Linked DNA regions of Homo sapiens. The protein of the gene in region 2 interacts with the protein of the main gene of each other region in a pairwise test. Each region holds a gene or a part of one and is shown on either strand. Other genes may lie near its edges.

Region 1 (2,985 bases), on a different chromosome or scaffold from region 2:
GTGCAGGGATCTAATTAGAAAGGCTGTCCCTTGTTGGAATGAGCTCTGATTTAGTTATCTCTGATTTAGTTCCAGCCAAAGAGGAAGCTAATGCTGTGCCTCTCTGTAGAGCAAAACCCTCCCCCAGCTATATTAATCTTCAAGCAAGTTCCCCACCAGCCACTTTTCTGAACATCCAGACAACAAAGCTGCCCTCGGGTAAGGATGTAGGGAGGGTTTTCTAATGGACTCAACAGGGGGAAGGGTTGCATGGAGGAGGTGGCTTGAGCTGTCGCCTATTGATCAAGAGCCAAATCTATGTTAGGCATCTATAGATCTTTCCGTGATAGCTTGTTGATTATTTAGTTTCATTGATATCATTATCATCCCAGTTCTACCAACTTGTATTGTTTCCTTGCTTGTTAGCACTTTTGCTAGACTAGGCAGGAGTGAAGTGAACCTCTCATTGCTTACTGGTAATGTTAGTTAAAAGATGGCCAGGTTTACCCCTGTTCACTTGGGAAGGTAAAATTTTAAAAAACGGTGGCTAGAGAAGGAAACTATTAGCTCAGTCTCAGGGTCTTTGAATTTTCATCATTCATCTTCCCTTGGGGAGGTCAGTGGGTATTTGGCATAGCTATGGGGAACCCAACAGGGCACTAACTAGACAGTCATAACCCCTGTTTTTGAGGACCTCAGAGTCCAACAAAGAAGTCAAGACTGATAAAAATACAAACAGCAGATAATATAATTACCAAGGTTAACTGGCTGTGTAAAATATTAGAAAAAGTGGCTGGGCACGGTAGCTCATCCCTGTAATCCCAGCACTTTGGGAGGCCAAGGCAGGTGGATTGTCTGAGGTCAGGAGCTTCAGACCAGCCTGACCGACATGGTGAAACCCTGTCTCTACTAAAAATACAAAAATAAGCTGGGCGTGGTGGCAGGTGCCTGTAATCTCAGCTGCTTAGGAGGCCGAGGCAGGAGAATTGCTTGAACCTGGGAGGCGGAGGTTGCAGTGAGCCAAGACTGGGCCATTGCACTCCAGCCTGGGCAACAAGAGTGAAACTCCATCTCAAAACAAACAAAAGAATGGACTGGCAGGGCTCGGTGGCTCATGCCTGTAATCCCAGCACTTTGGGAGGCCAAAGCGGGCGGATTACCTGAGGTCAGGAGTTTGAGACCAGCCTCACCAACATGGTGAAACCCCATCTCTACTAAAAATACAAAAATTAGCTGGGCATGGTGGCACCTGCCTGTAATCCCAGCTACTTGGGAGACTGAGGCAGGAGAATTGCTTAAACTGGGAGGTGGAGGTTGCAGTGAGCCAGGATTGTGCCGCTGCACTGCATCCTGGGAGACAGAGCAAGGCTCCATTGAAAAAAAAAAAAAGAAAAAAGAAAAATATTAGAAAAAGAATGGACTGGCCAGGTGCAGTGGCTCACACTTGTAATACCAGCACTTTGGAAGGCCAAGGCAGGTGGATCACCTGAGGTCAGGAGTTCGAGACCAGCCTGGGCAACGTGGTGAAACCTCGTCTCTACTAATGATACAAAACTTAGCCAGGCATGGTGGCACATGACTGTAATCCCAGCTACTCAGGAAGTTGAGGCAGGAGAATTGCTTGAACCCAGGAGGTGGAGGTTGCAGTGAGCTGAGATCGTACCATTGTACTCTAGCCTGGGTGACAAGTGAAACTCCGTCTCCAAAAAAAAAAAAAAAAAAGAAAAAGAAAAAAAACAATGGACCAATGTAGCAAGAATGGTTGAAGTTAGGGAACTTCAGGTCACTGCTAATGATACACTATGTCAAGTAACAGAGGAGGCTGAGGTATCCCCTGAGCTCTAGGGAAGGTAGGCCTCCCTCCCAGACCATTTCATTCACTCATCAAATATTTGTTATATGCTGGGCATTTTTCTAGGTGCTAGGGTTAAAGTAGTGAACAAATCAGATAAAAATCCTTGCCTTCCTGGAGCTTACGTTCTAGAAGGGGGACTTAGACAAAAATTAAGTAATTATAAAATATGCCATATGACCATAAATATTATGGGAAAAGTGAAACAAGGGAGGGGGTAATAAGTTCCAGTGATTGATTTCAAATTAAAATAGGATAGCCAGGTATGCCTCACTGGGAGGTGACAGCTGGGCAAAGGTATGTCTGGGTTGGGTTGTGCCTGGAAAGATTGGAGAGGTCATTTTATTAGGGTCCTTCCAACCTCAGTACAATTACCAAATCTCTCTCCTTTGTTCCCTTGCACCTCCGTTGCTTTTCCTTCTGGAGTTGATCACAAGCCCAAGGAATGCCTAGGACTCCTGGAATGTATGTATGCAAACCTCCAGCTTCAGACCCAGCTCGCCCAACAACAGATGGCTGTTTTGGAACATTTACAGGCATCTGTGACACAACTGGCTCCTGGGAGGGGAAGCAATAACTCTTCTCTCCCAGCCTTATCTCCTAATCCATTGTTAAATCACCTGCCCCAATTCAGTAAATGAATTGTGGAACAAAGTTATTGTGTTGTTTTCCTCTCTCTTCCCAGTAAACCCTTGTTGGAATCTGGGTATATGTATTCTACATATGGTTAGTTTGTTCACAGGTTCATAATAAGTGCTCACTGAGTGCAAAGCGTTGTACAAGGCACTTGGGGTTACATATTACAAAAGGAGTTTGCAGGGATTACTGTCTAACAAAGCAGACAATTCATTGCAAAATGTAGTGGTATTCTGAAAGAGGATGGAGGTTAAGAACTAACACTGGAGGTTACTAGGATACAACTGGACCAATTTTAGAATCTTGCTGGAGAAAGTGGCTTCATGATGCCACTTGAAGAAGGGAGGGGTTGGATGGCATGGACAGATGAAGTCAGGTAGTTCCATATCAGTTGGGAAGCTTGGACAAAGACCTAGAGGTAGACGTATTAGTCCATTCTTGCATTGCTATAAAGAAATACCTAAAGTTGGGTGATTTGTAGAGAAAATATGTTTATTTTGGCTCATGGTTTGGTTCTG
Region 2 (5,271 bases):
GCAGTAGCGCGATCTTGGCTCACTGCAAGCTCCGCCTCCCAGGTTCATGCCATTCTCCTGCCTCAGTCTCCTGAGTAGCTGGGACTACAGGCGCCTGCCACCACGCCTGGCTAATTTTTCTTTGTATTTTTAGTAGAGATGGGGTTTCGCCATGTTAGCCAGGATGATCTCGATCTCCTGACCTCATGATCCACCCACCTTCGCCTCCCAAAGTGCTGGGATTACAGGTGTGAGCCACTGCACCCAGCCAAGCAGTCCCTTCTTTAAGCCAATTAATTATAGCTTTTTCATATATTTTGGTAGTGAAATATCACATACACATGACACATATAAACATATAGACATACAGACAGAAGCAGATCTTATAGTTTTTATAAAGAATCTTCTCTCCAATTCCCCATTTCTACCAAAGAGAAATCTTAGCAAGACCAACTAACTTGTAAAGTAAGTTTTAGCATTAATACTTAACCTGATTATGCTCTCAAATAGTTTTTATTTCCCCCTTTTACATGATCCCTAAGCAACTGTTAGCTAGGCAACACTAAATTGGCACTTCTAAAGGGATGACTGAGGTGAAACAAAGTAGAAAAAATTCACATCTCAAAAGCACAGAGCTGAATTCAAACCAAGGAAGAAGGGTGTAGGTAAAAGCCTAGTTGTGGGCGGCAAACCACCTACGTGCCGAGGCAAGAGACCGAGGGCACGAGCTTTTCCAGTATAATAAAATATATAAAACAACAAGAGTTATACTAGATCTAGATCATAGACATGATTATATATGAAAATCATTAATCATTAGTTTGTAGCAATTACTCTTTATTCCAATATTACAATAATCCTCGCTCTACAATCATAACCTAGGAAAAACCAGGCCATACAGACACAGGAGCTGAGGGGACATAGTGAGAAGTGACCAGAAGACAAGCATGCGAGCCTTCTGTTATGCCCGGACAGGGCCACCAGAGGGCTCCTTGGTCTAGCGGTAACGCCAGCGTCTGGGAAGACGCCTGTTGTCAAGCGGACCATGGTCTAGCAGTAGCGTCAGTGTCAAGGAAAAACACCGGCTACTTAGCAGACCGGGAAAGGGAGTCTCCCTTTCCCCACGGGAGTTCAGAGAAGACTCTACTCCTCCATCTCTTGTGGAGGGCCTCAGGCCCACCTTCAGTTATCCGAAGGCATACCATCTCCCTGTGACGCTGTGCTTCAGTGGTCACACTCCTAGTCCGCCTTCGTGTTCCATCCTGTACACCTGGCTCTGCCTTCTAGATAGCAGTAGCAAATTAGTGAAAGTACTAAAAGTCTCTGATATGCAGAAATAATGGCGCAAGCTGTCTCTCTCTCTCCCCCTCTCTGCCTTGGCTGCCAGGCAGGGAAGGGCCCCCTGTCCAGTGGACACGTGACCCACGTGACCCTACCTATCATTGGAGATGACTCACACTCTTTACCCTGCCCCTTTTGCTTTGTATCCAATAAATAACAACGCAGCCAGACATTCGGGGCCATTACCGGTCTCCGCATCTTGGTGTTAGTGGTCCCCCAGGCCCACCTGTCTTTCCTTTTATCTCTTTGTCTTGTGTCTTTATTTCTACAATCTCTCGTCTCTGCACATGGGGAGAAAAACCCACCGATCCTGTGGGGCTGGTCCCTACACCTAGTGAAGACGAGGTTGCCAGGAAAAGTATTTCCACCGAAGGCAAGGTCTGTGATGTAAACTGTAAGACAGTGTCTTCAGCCAATGTCTTCCCCATCTTCAGTTTCTAGCAGTTTGGGTGCAGGGAGGGAGACACCCTTACAAATGGAGATTTCCTTCATATATATAAATTTTTTTTACAAAGAGTTTCAAAATAGCCAGCTAAATGCTAGAAAGCCATATTTTGGATATCAAAGTTACACAAGGGTCTGCATTAGTTAGGGTTCTCCAGAGGGGCAGAACTAACAGAATAGACATATATATGAAAGGGAGTATATTAGGGAGAACTAGTTCACACCATCACAGGGTGAAGTCCCATGATACACCGTCTGCAAGCTGCAGAAGAAGGAAGCCAGGAGTGGCTCAGTCGGAGTCCAAAAGCCTCAAAAGTAGGGAAGCCAACAGTGCAGGCTTCAATCTGTGGCTGAAGGCCCGAGAGTCCCAAGCAAACCACTGGCTTAAGTCCAAGAGTCCAAAGGCCAAAGAACCTGGAGTCTGATGTCCAAGGGCAGGGGGAACGGAGGAGGCATCCAGCACAGGAGAAAGATGAAAGTGAAACTGCCTCTGCAAAAATTACAACTGAGGAAATGATGACAGTGAAAGAGATCAGACCTACCTGACTCCATCTTGCTTCTAACCTTTAGGCTGTCTTTGTTCATGCCTGGGCACAGGCCAACTAACCTTGGGAAGGAATTTAGCTTATAGTTTGACTCTGAAACAAAATTGATAATAGCCATTTCCCAGAAAGATCCCCTTCTTGCCTAGGAACCAGTCTGCCTTTGTAGGAGTAACAAATTAGCTACAAGATTAGAAATTTTAAGGCCCAAGGTGGCTGCCTTCACGTTAGTACCCGTGTGAAGTCGACAGGGACGGTTCCTGTTGTCTTCTTGAAGGCCACATCTGGTCCTCATTCTTGGGCTTATTTGGTGTGCTGTTGAAGGGGCAGACTAGAGAAATGGCAGGGAGCCTCTTATGTAGGGCAGGTAGGCGCCTGTGGGACTAGGTGTGGCATGCAGAAGCTTCTTTCTTGGTATTCCTAGATTGATTGGTATAAGGCTCCTACCCCCCAAAGTAGTTGATCCTTGGAACGAAAGGATGGCCATGTTCAGAGTGTATGACAACATCAGGATCCTGGGAAACTTTGAAAAGCACCCCAAAAGCTGATCAGGGACCCCATATGGCTTCGAGATTGGAAGGGGAATGAATTGCAACGCTGTATGCTAAAGAAGAAAATGGTTGGAAACAGAATGTTTGCTGATGAGCTGCACAACCTCAATAAACGCATCAGCTGTCTCTACAAACACTTTAACTGACATGGGAAATATCGATAGAAGAGAAAGCTGAGAACTTCAGAAAAGGCTCATCTGTCACCCTGGAGAAGGGAAGCTGTACTTTTCCTTATGAGGAAACGGCTTTGTATGCTCTCTGTAATAAAATGGGGCTTCTTTGAAAAAAAAAAAAAGAAATTTTGATTTAAAGGTCATCCAGCCTCTGGCTGTCCAAACCTCCCGAAATTGCTCCTGGGGATAACATCACCATTGTAATCCGAAGATCAGTGCTTGAGGTATTTATTCTGCAAGACCCTGTACTCTATGGATCAGCTGATACCACACAGACCGGCTATCTGGCTCAGCCAGTTCTGCCATTGTACCCAGGAACAGAAGACAGCAAGGAAACCTCACTTTGACCTCCCTGTGATTCCATCTCCAGCCAGATCAATCAGCACTCCTACTTCCTGAGCCGCCAAATTATCTTTAAAAACTCTGATCTGCAAATTCTTGGGATGTCTAATTTGAGTAATAATAAAACTCCAGTCGCCCGCACAGCTAGCTCTGTGTAAATTACTCGTTCTGCATTGCAATTCCCCTGTCCTGATAAATCCGCTCCATCTAGGCAGCCGGCTAGGTGAACTCACTGGGTGGCTACAAAAGCCAGAAGACTCAGCAAGCCAGCTTCTCCCACCCTCCTCCACCTGCTTTGTTCCAGCCACACTGTCAGCCAATCGGATGGTGCCCACCCACACTGAGGGTGGGTCTTCCTCTCTCAGTCCACTGACTCCAATGTCAATTTCCTCTGGCAACACCCTCACAACACACCCAAGAACAATACTTTACCATCCTTCAATCCAATCAGGTTGACAGCTAATATTAACCATCACAGGGTCTTTTCAACTTAGCTTGTTTCTCTATTAGATTACTGACTTCAGGGTGAAGCCCTTTAATGAATAGGGCAAAGGAGGCATTCTCTATGCCTGGAATCAGCATGGATAGCTCTGAAAAGAAGCAAGCCTACTTTACCTGCTTGAGGGCCTACTTTTAACTTTTTATAAACACTTTATCCAACTTATTACATATAAAAAAAGAAAAAACTTGGCCGGGTGCGGTGGCTCATGTCTGTAATCCCAGCACTTTGGGAGGCCAAGGTGGGTGGATCACCTGAGATCAGGAGTTCAAGACCAGCCTGGCCAACATGGTGAAACTTTGTCTCTACTAAAAATACAAAATTAGCCAGGTGTGGTGGTGCATGCATGTAATCCCAGCTACTTGGGAGGCTGAGGCAGGAGGACCGCTTGAACCTGGCAGGCCGAAGTTGCAGTGAGCCGAGATCAGGCCATCCCTTACACTCCAGCCTGGGCAATGAGAGCGAAACTCCATCTCAAAAAAAAAAACGAAATGGACATTTTCAAGTTACTCACAAAACCAGTGAGACTTAACCAAGGTAAATTAGCCAGGTGTGGTGGCATGCACCTGTCATCCCAGCTACTCGGGAGGCTAAGGCAGGAGAATTGCTTCAACCCAGGAGACAGAGGTTGCAGTGAGCCAAGATCGCACCACTGCACTCCAGCTTGGGTGACACAGCGAGACTCCATCTCAAAAACAAAGATTTAACCAAGGTAATGGCATAACGAAGGTCATGACTTAACCAAGGCTGAACCAAGCATCTCCAAAGAAATGCAAAGCAGTCTTCCTAAGCGTCAGAACCACTCTAAAGACAGCTCAGAAAAAGAAATCTTGCTGCTCACACCTGTAATCCCAGCACTTTGGGAAGCTGAGGTGGGTGGATCACTTGACGTCAGGAGTTCGAGACCAGCCTGGCCAACATGGTGAAACCCCATCTCTACTAAAAACACAAAAATTAGCCAGGCGTGGTGGTGAGCACCTGTAATCCCACCTACTTGGGAGGCTGAGGCAGAAGAATTGACTGAACCTGAGAGGTGGAGGTTGCAGTGAGCTTAGACCATGCCATTGCACTCCAGCCTGGGTGACGAGAGCGAAACTCCATCTCAAAAAAAAAAAAAAAAAAAAAAGAAGGCCAGGCGCGGTGGCTCACACCTGTAATCCCAGCACTTTGGGAGGCCGAGGCAGGCAGATCACCTGAGGTCAGGAGTTCAAGACCAGCCTGGCCAACATGGTGAAACCCTGTCTGTACTAAAAATACAAAAAATTAGCTGGGCGTGGTGGTGGGCACCTATAATCCCAGCTACTCGGGAGGCTGAGGCAGGAGAACTGCTGGAACCTGGAAGGCGGAGGCTGCACTGAGCCGAGATCATGCCACTGCACTCCAGCATGGGCAACACAGCA
Region 3 (3,500 bases), on a different chromosome or scaffold from region 2:
CTGGTGTGGTAAGGCCCAAGCCCAGGAGGGTACAGAGCTAAATAATGAGACACACTCAGGCCAAGTAGGGCCTCCTGGGCTGGGTAAGGATTTGGGATTTTATTCTGAAGTGCGGAGGGAAGCTTTGGAGGAATTTCCCCTCCTGACTTTTTCCTGTCATTCATAATATACAAGAAAAAGATCATTAGTCACTTCTATTTATTCAGATAATGAACAATCTCTACTTCTTAAGCTATATAAACCTTGTCTTAGTGTGTGAAACAATTCTGGAGTGTCTAGTTTTCAATCTCCAGATGAGGGAACTGAGGCTCAAAACAAAGTGAAAGAAGGCAGAGGCAGGATTTGGAACCAGGCCTGCCCAGCCCACGGCACATGCTCTGTAGTTTTCTGGGACAGATGAGTGTAAATGCATATGGGCCTCCTAGGCACCCGGCATCCTTCATCAGGAGCTTCAGTGGATGGACTAGGGTGGAGTCCAGTCCTTCCTGGCTCTTTAGAAACAGGAACAAAAGACCCCGAAGAGTGGAGGGAGGTTGGGCATGTACAGGTCAGGGGGTCAGAATCTGTAGGCACCAAATGTCAGGGCCCCCTGGCTATGGGAAGGGCTGTCAGTTTTTCACGCTAGTCTGTTCTGCTCCGCCTAGCTGTTGCCCAGAAATCCCAAAGAGGGTGCCTTCCCAGCTCTGTTCACCTTTGAAAATCTGAATTCATCATTTGTGTGCACTTGAGAGACCCAGGGTTTGGTAAAAACAAAATTCTTTATTGGGTGTTTTCAGGTCACAGGAAAAGCCTCCACTGTGTGGGACCCACATCCTTAGCACTGCATGCTGGCTGCTTCCAGGCATCTGCACTGACCCTGTTTCTCCTTCCTTGCTGTGAAGCGGTCATGAGGTTGCAGTGCCAGATGTGTTGCAGGCCAGGTGTATCTCGGCTGGTTGGGCAGGCCTTCTGCTTAACATGGGACCTCACTTAGTGAGGGAAGAGAGCAGTCCTGGCCCAAGGGGTGCAGTGTCTGGGGCAGATGCTTTAGGGGTTATGGCTCTATCATCTTCTCAACCTCTTAATGCCACTCAGGGTCACCACACATAAATCCCTGGGTACTCTCCCACTTAGCTCTGTGACAGGTTTGTGTCCTAGATGCTTGCTGACTCTGTATACATGTTCAATGGGGTTAATAAACGTCTTCAGCTAAGCATTTTGGCCAGCGATCAGCAGAGTGTTTATTTGCTGTGGGCCCGGTTTCAACTCCCACTTTGGTGGTGACTAATATATTTTGTTCTTGTGGAGTGCTTTTCACTTGATAAGCCCCAGACACTTTCTGTGTCAGTCCTAAATGCCATATCCAGATGTCCTCCAGCTTCCAGATCGGCCACTTCTGTGGCACTTTCCTCTGCATAAACACTTCAGCCCTCTCGCAGAGTGGAGTTCCAGGAAACCGGTTTCCACTTCAAGGCTCTGTTGTTTTCTGCTGGCTTTCTTCATTAAGATATTTTTATTCACTGGCCCCTCAGAGATGAATATCAAGTGCAGTGTTTTGGGAACTTTGTTTTTCAAAGCCTGGATAAAACCAAGAAAATGTCAAGCAGTAGGTGATTAAGTACCAAGTGGTCGCACAGGCAATGCTTTTGACATTGACAGCTGGGCTCTGGTTAACCTTTTAAAGACAGCAGCGAAGATAAATGCCTTAGAGCAACAGAAACTATTGGTGATGGAAAGTTGAATTTATTCACCAATAAACTTGGTAAGTGACATTCCCTAAGTGAGCCTGTGAATTATGGAAATCCACGTATCAGTGGACATGATGAAGCACCTGCTATACGCAGTGCACCCGGCCAGATTCATTCATTCGACGGTTCCTATCGAGCACCCTCTATGTGCTGGAGATACGGTGACTCACCAGATGGTCGCCCTCCCTTGTCATCAGTGCTGGCCTTGAAGATGACAGATGGAAATGCTGGCCTAGGCTGCCCTCTTGTAGGTCACGGCCGGTGCTTACTATGTGACCAGTGCTGTTCTAAATACCGTATGTACGTGTATTAACTCACTGCATGCTCACAGAGATCCCTACATGGAGTAGGTGCAGTTATTATCTGTACTTACAGAGAAGAAAACAGAAGCACAGAAGAGAGCATTATTTGTCCAAGTCACATAGCTGGTGATTGGAACCAGATAGCCTGGCTTTAGAGTCTGTGTCCTTCACTGCCACTACCAACCAATGTGAAAGGAAAATAATCAACTTAGGACACAAAGTTGCACGCCCTCTGAGAGAGGCGGGGATAGAATACCATGGGCCTTCCCAGCAGGGAGAGATGGGCTTAGGGGAGAAACAGAGTAAGGTGGGAACCCTACCCTTTTCCCATTCTGACAGGTGACATCCCCGCTGGGGGGATGGAGGAAATGTTTGGCTACTGAGGAGGCTACTCTGGCCAGAAGTAGACAAAAGAAGCAACTGTCTCGCAGCCAGGAGACTTGGATGCTAGTTTTGATTGATCCGGACAAGTCCAGGGCCCTGCCCAGGGCCTCTGTTTTCCCATCTCTAAAATAGGTGGCTTGGACAACATTCTGTTTGACCTCAGGAGCCCAGGATTTCAGCAGAGAAGGGAGGAGCTGGCTCTCTGTGCACTCTGAACAGGGTTTCCTGACCAGAAGAAGATGTTTGGCTCTGAGAGATGTGGGGGCAGGCATTGGACTTCCCAGAAGGCCTTGGCAGCTGTGAAAGGATGTATGCGTTCCACTGTGGTCCCACCCCGAATGCTGACGTTGGCTGTGTCTGCATTCCTTTCTTTGTAGGCAGGATGGCAGTGTCTGTGTGTCTGGAGCTCACACTATAAGGTACTTTGTATGAGAGACAGAGGGAGCTAGAGGGAGGGAAGAGGGAGTAGGGAGGGGAAGGAAGCCGGGAGAGAGAGAGGTGATTCCGGGAGGGACTGACTTCCATCTGCTTTCAAATTCTGAGGGATTAAGTGCTTTCAGATACTTAAAGTCAGTGAGTGTCAATGGAGTTAAAAAGCTTCCAATAATAATTGTAGCTTCATCCATCTGCTAAATTGTCTCCAGAGTCGGCTGCCTATAGTGTTCTGGCATGGCAGAGGCCCACATGACCGGGCTTGTTTTCCAGGTTAAGTTCCTTAAGAAATTGTAAACCAAGCAAGAAAAACAAACAGACAACAACAGAACACAGATTGTTGTGGATCATGCAGCAGGAAAAGTAGGACACCATTTGAGCTGACCAAGCATATGTGTTCTCCGTGCAGCTCTGTCGAAGCTGTGTAAGGTGTGCTTGGTGCTGGCTCCTGCCAGATGCTGTTGGCATGGCTTCATCCACCCAGCTTGCTGTTGGGTAACTTGCAGAGTGAAGAAGTCTGTTGTTCACGTCATCACCACAACCCTGAACATCCAAGCAGTTCATGTCAACAACTAGAGTATAATTATCTTCTTTACTTGTAAAACTGTGGAGCCTGTGGATTAAATTCACCAAAATGAATCATATTCAAGAGAAG
Region 4 (3,500 bases), on a different chromosome or scaffold from region 2:
TGCTGCTGAGGTCTCTGTGCGGTGTTGGCCGGCAGTCCCTGTGCGGTGTGTTCCATGCTGCTGAGGTCTCTGTGCGGTGTTGGCCGGCAGTCCCTGTGTGGTGTGTTCCATGCTGCTGAGGTCTCTGTGCGGTGTAGGCCGGCAGTCCCTGTGTGGTGTGCTCCACGCTGCTGAGGTCTCTGCGGTGTTGGCCGGCAGTCCCTGTGTGGTGTGCCCCACGCTGCTGAGGTCTCTGTGCGGTGTTGGCCGGCAGTCCCTGTGTGGTGTGCCCCACGCTGCTGAGGTCTCTGTGCGGTGTTGGCCGGCAGTCCCTGTGTGGTGTGCTCCACGCTGCTGAGGTCTCTGTGCAGTGTAGGCCGGCAGTCCCTGTGCGGTGTGCCCCACGCTGCTGAGGTCTCTGTGCGGTGTTGGCCACAACACTGGGCTGGGCTGGGGAGGCGGCGCCGGCCCACAGGGTGTATCCCAGAGCTCCTGCAGCCGCTGCGGTCCTCTGGTCTGCCCCAGGTGGCACGTGGGCTCTCAGATCCCAGATCCTCTGGTCACCCCTCACCCCCAACCCAACTTCTGTGCAGTGGCTGCGGGAGTTTGAGACACGCTGTGGCTTCAGGGGCTGGTGGCCTGAGCTCAGCCTCCTCATGATGGCTTCCTAATTCTAGGAAGGGGCAGTGGGGTCCCTGCTTGCCATTCGGGGTTGGGGGTGGGGACTTGGGAGGGAAGGGCCCGTGCAGGAGGGCAGCCCCACGGCCTGCAGGGATGTGTGGGGACAGCCTTGGAAGGCAGGGCTGGCTGGGTGAGGCCACTCTGAGGCGGGTCCTTCCCACTCAGTCTTGAGCCTTGGGAATTGAGGTCTTGGTGCTTGGCATGAAATTGCACGTGAACACCTGCTCCTTGAAATCACCCTCACAGAAAGTTTTTTTTTTGTTTTTGTTTTTGTTTTTTTTGAGATGGAATCTTGCTCTGTCGTCCAGGCTGGAGGGCAGTGGCACGATCTCGGCTCACTGCAAGCTCCGCCTCTGGGGTTCACACCATTCTTCCGCCTCAGCCTCCCGAGTAGCTGGGACTACAGGCACCCGCCACCACGCCTGGCTAATTTTTTGTATTTTTTTTTTTTTGGTTGAGACGGGGTTTCACCGTGTTAGCCAGGATGGTCTCGATCTCCTGACCTTGTGATCTGCCCACCTCGGCCTCCCAAAGTGCTGGGATTACAGGTGTGAGCCACCGCACCCGGCCCTGGAAAGTTTTTTAAACAGTCGAATGTGCACACGTGGACAGATGCTAACACACACTTAGGTATTTAAACTCTGAGGGGCAGCAGCAGCGTGTCAGAGGCGAGGACCCAGCTGCTGGTCTGTGGTGCGGGGCGTCCCACCTGAGCACGCTCGTTTTGCCGGAGGAACAGCCAAGCCTCACACTGCCTGTGGGGGGCTGCGAGGACGGGCTGGGGGTGTCCTTCCCTGGCTGCCCCAGCAACTCCCACGCCTTCTGCCCTTGGTCTCACTCTAAGCCCAGGTGGGACGGTCGTCCTCCTCAGCTAGGCTTCCTGAGCTCTGCAGCGCTGGGTGGGCTGTGGATGATGGGGGGCTCTGTTGACAGGTTCTGCGTTAGACCTGCATCTTAGCAATGTGAATATTGCATCCCTAGAGAAGGACCTGGAAGAGCAAGACGGCCACGACCTGGGAGCAGCAGGTGAGGGTGGGGAGGACCTGGGGCCCTGCTCCTCCAGCCGCTGAACAGCCAAGTGCTGTGGCCGGAGGATCGCTTGAGCCCGGGGAGGTCAAGGCTGCAGTGAGCTGAGGTTGCACCACTGCACTCCTGCCTGGACCACAGGGCAAGACCCGGTGTCTGGTTTTCGGAGCGGGAGGATCCCCTTCTGGCGGTACCTCCTCCTCCTCTCCCTGACTGCCTCTCCCTTTCCCTCCCCTGCACATGGACTCCTCAGCATCTCTCCTGCCTCGGGCCTGCCCACTTCTTCAGTTGACCTTTGTCCCAGCAAAGTGGCCGCGCAGAGACAGGCGGGGCCTTTCCTGAAAGTCTTGATGGTCCCCGAAGGATAAATGTATTCACATTGTAGACAAAAGATTGACATCCATACAAATGTATCTTTTTTTTTTTTTTTTTTTTTGAGACAGAGCCTCGCTCTGTCGCCCAGGCTGGAGTGCAGTGGCGCGATCTCCGCTCACTGCAAGCTCCACCTCCCGGGTTCACGCCATTCTCCTGCCTCAGCCTCCGGAGTAGCTGGGACTACAGGTGCCCGCCACCACGCCCAGCTAATTTTTTGTATTTTTAATAGAGACGGGGTTTCACCATGTTAGCCAGGATGGTCTCCATCTCCTGACCCCGTGATCTGCCCGCCTTGGCCTCCCAAAGTGCTGGGATTACAGGCGTGAGCCAGTGCGCCCGGCCCCATACAAATGTATCTTAACATCGTATACAACATCTTTTCATTCAGCCTAAAAGTGTATCTTTTCTTTCTTTTAAAAGAAAGTAAACCATTTCAGGGGGCCTGGACAAGTGCTGGGAGGACCGTGCCAATGGCTTAGTTGGCCGGCAGGGCCTGGTGGGTGTCCGGCCTCTTTGGGGGGGGCCCATGTTAAACCCCCGTCTCCCCACCTCTGGTTGGAATCCCTTTGAGCCCATGGCTTGCCCAGCTGTGTTGGACATGGCCACCGGGGGCGCTGTGGCTCCAAACACATAGATGGTGGTGGCTGGCCTGGCCCCTATATTCCCACCCCCCATATCCCCACCACCACCACCTGCAGGGTCCGTCTTCCACGGCTGCCGCCCATGGCAGATGTTTGGGCAGAGGCCTGGCGGTACTCCCTTCGCTGACTGGTCCGCCCCCGCCAGGTCCCAGGTCGCTGGCCGGCTCTGCACCTGTCGCCATCCCCGGCTCCCTGCCCAGAGCACCATCGCTACACTCGCCATCCTCTGCGTCCACCTCGCCGCTCGGTTCGCTGTCCCAGCCCCTCCCAGGGCCGGTGGGCTCCTCAGCCATGACGCCTCCCCAGCAGCCGCCACCCCTGCGTTCAGAGCCGGGCACACTGGGCTCTGCAGCCTCATCCTACAGCCCCCTAGGTGAGTGCCGGCTCCCTCCATGCTGGCGTTGCCGTGAAGCCTCCGTGGGGCTCCCTCCCAGATGCCGTCCTGACTGAGGGGCCTCACACGGAACCTTGTGCCCTATCTGTGGTGGCAAACCACATGACCTGCTGCTCACAGGTTCCCCCACGCCGCAGACCGAGTCTCGCTCTGTCGCCCAGGTTGGACTGCAATGGTACGATCTCGGCTCGCCGCAACCTCCGCCTCCCAGGTTCAAGCAATTCTCCTGCCTCAGCCACCCAAGTAGCTGGGACTACAGGCGGGCGCCACCACGCCCAGCTAGTTTTTGTATTTTTAGTAGAGATGGCGTTTCATCACGCTGGCCGGGCCGGTCTCAAACTCCTGACCTCGTGATCTGCCTGCCTTGGCTTCCCAAAGTGTGGGATGACAGTGAGCCACCGTGC

The links.
Region 1: the proteins of alpha-crystallin A2 chain (region 2) and TSACC interact in binary tests that used the Homo sapiens proteins (3 or more experiments, as listed by UniProt).
Region 3: the proteins of alpha-crystallin A2 chain (region 2) and NOD1 interact in binary tests that used the Homo sapiens proteins (3 or more experiments, as listed by UniProt).
Region 4: the proteins of alpha-crystallin A2 chain (region 2) and UNKL interact in binary tests that used the Homo sapiens proteins (3 or more experiments, as listed by UniProt).

The regions. Positions count from the first base shown.
Region 1 is NC_000001.11:156,344,511-156,347,495, forward strand, and holds the end of TSACC (TSSK6-activating co-chaperone protein), read left to right. Parts: intron 1-69; coding exon 70-198; intron 199-2,257; coding exon 2,258-2,472; 3' UTR 2,473-2,485; downstream 2,486-2,985.
Region 2 is NC_000021.9:6,504,764-6,510,034, reverse strand, and holds part of alpha-crystallin A2 chain, read right to left. Parts: intron 3,233-5,271; exon of another isoform or gene 2,646-3,232; intron 1-2,645. UniProt on the Homo sapiens protein: Contributes to the transparency and refractive index of the lens. In its oxidized form (absence of intramolecular disulfide bond), acts as a chaperone, preventing aggregation of various proteins under a wide range of stress conditions.
Region 3 is NC_000007.14:30,468,785-30,472,284, reverse strand, and holds part of NOD1 (nucleotide-binding oligomerization domain-containing protein 1), read left to right. Parts: intron 1-3,500. UniProt on the Homo sapiens protein: Pattern recognition receptor (PRR) that detects bacterial peptidoglycan fragments and other danger signals and thus participates in both innate and adaptive immune responses.
Region 4 is NC_000016.10:1,369,705-1,373,204, reverse strand, and holds part of UNKL (putative E3 ubiquitin-protein ligase UNKL), read left to right. Parts: intron 1-1,593; coding exon 1,594-1,686; intron 1,687-2,847; coding exon 2,848-3,075; exon of another isoform or gene 3,076-3,198; coding exon of another isoform or gene 3,199-3,271; intron 3,272-3,500. UniProt on the Homo sapiens protein: May participate in a protein complex showing an E3 ligase activity regulated by RAC1. Ubiquitination is directed towards itself and possibly other substrates, such as SMARCD2/BAF60b. Intrinsic E3 ligase activity has not been proven.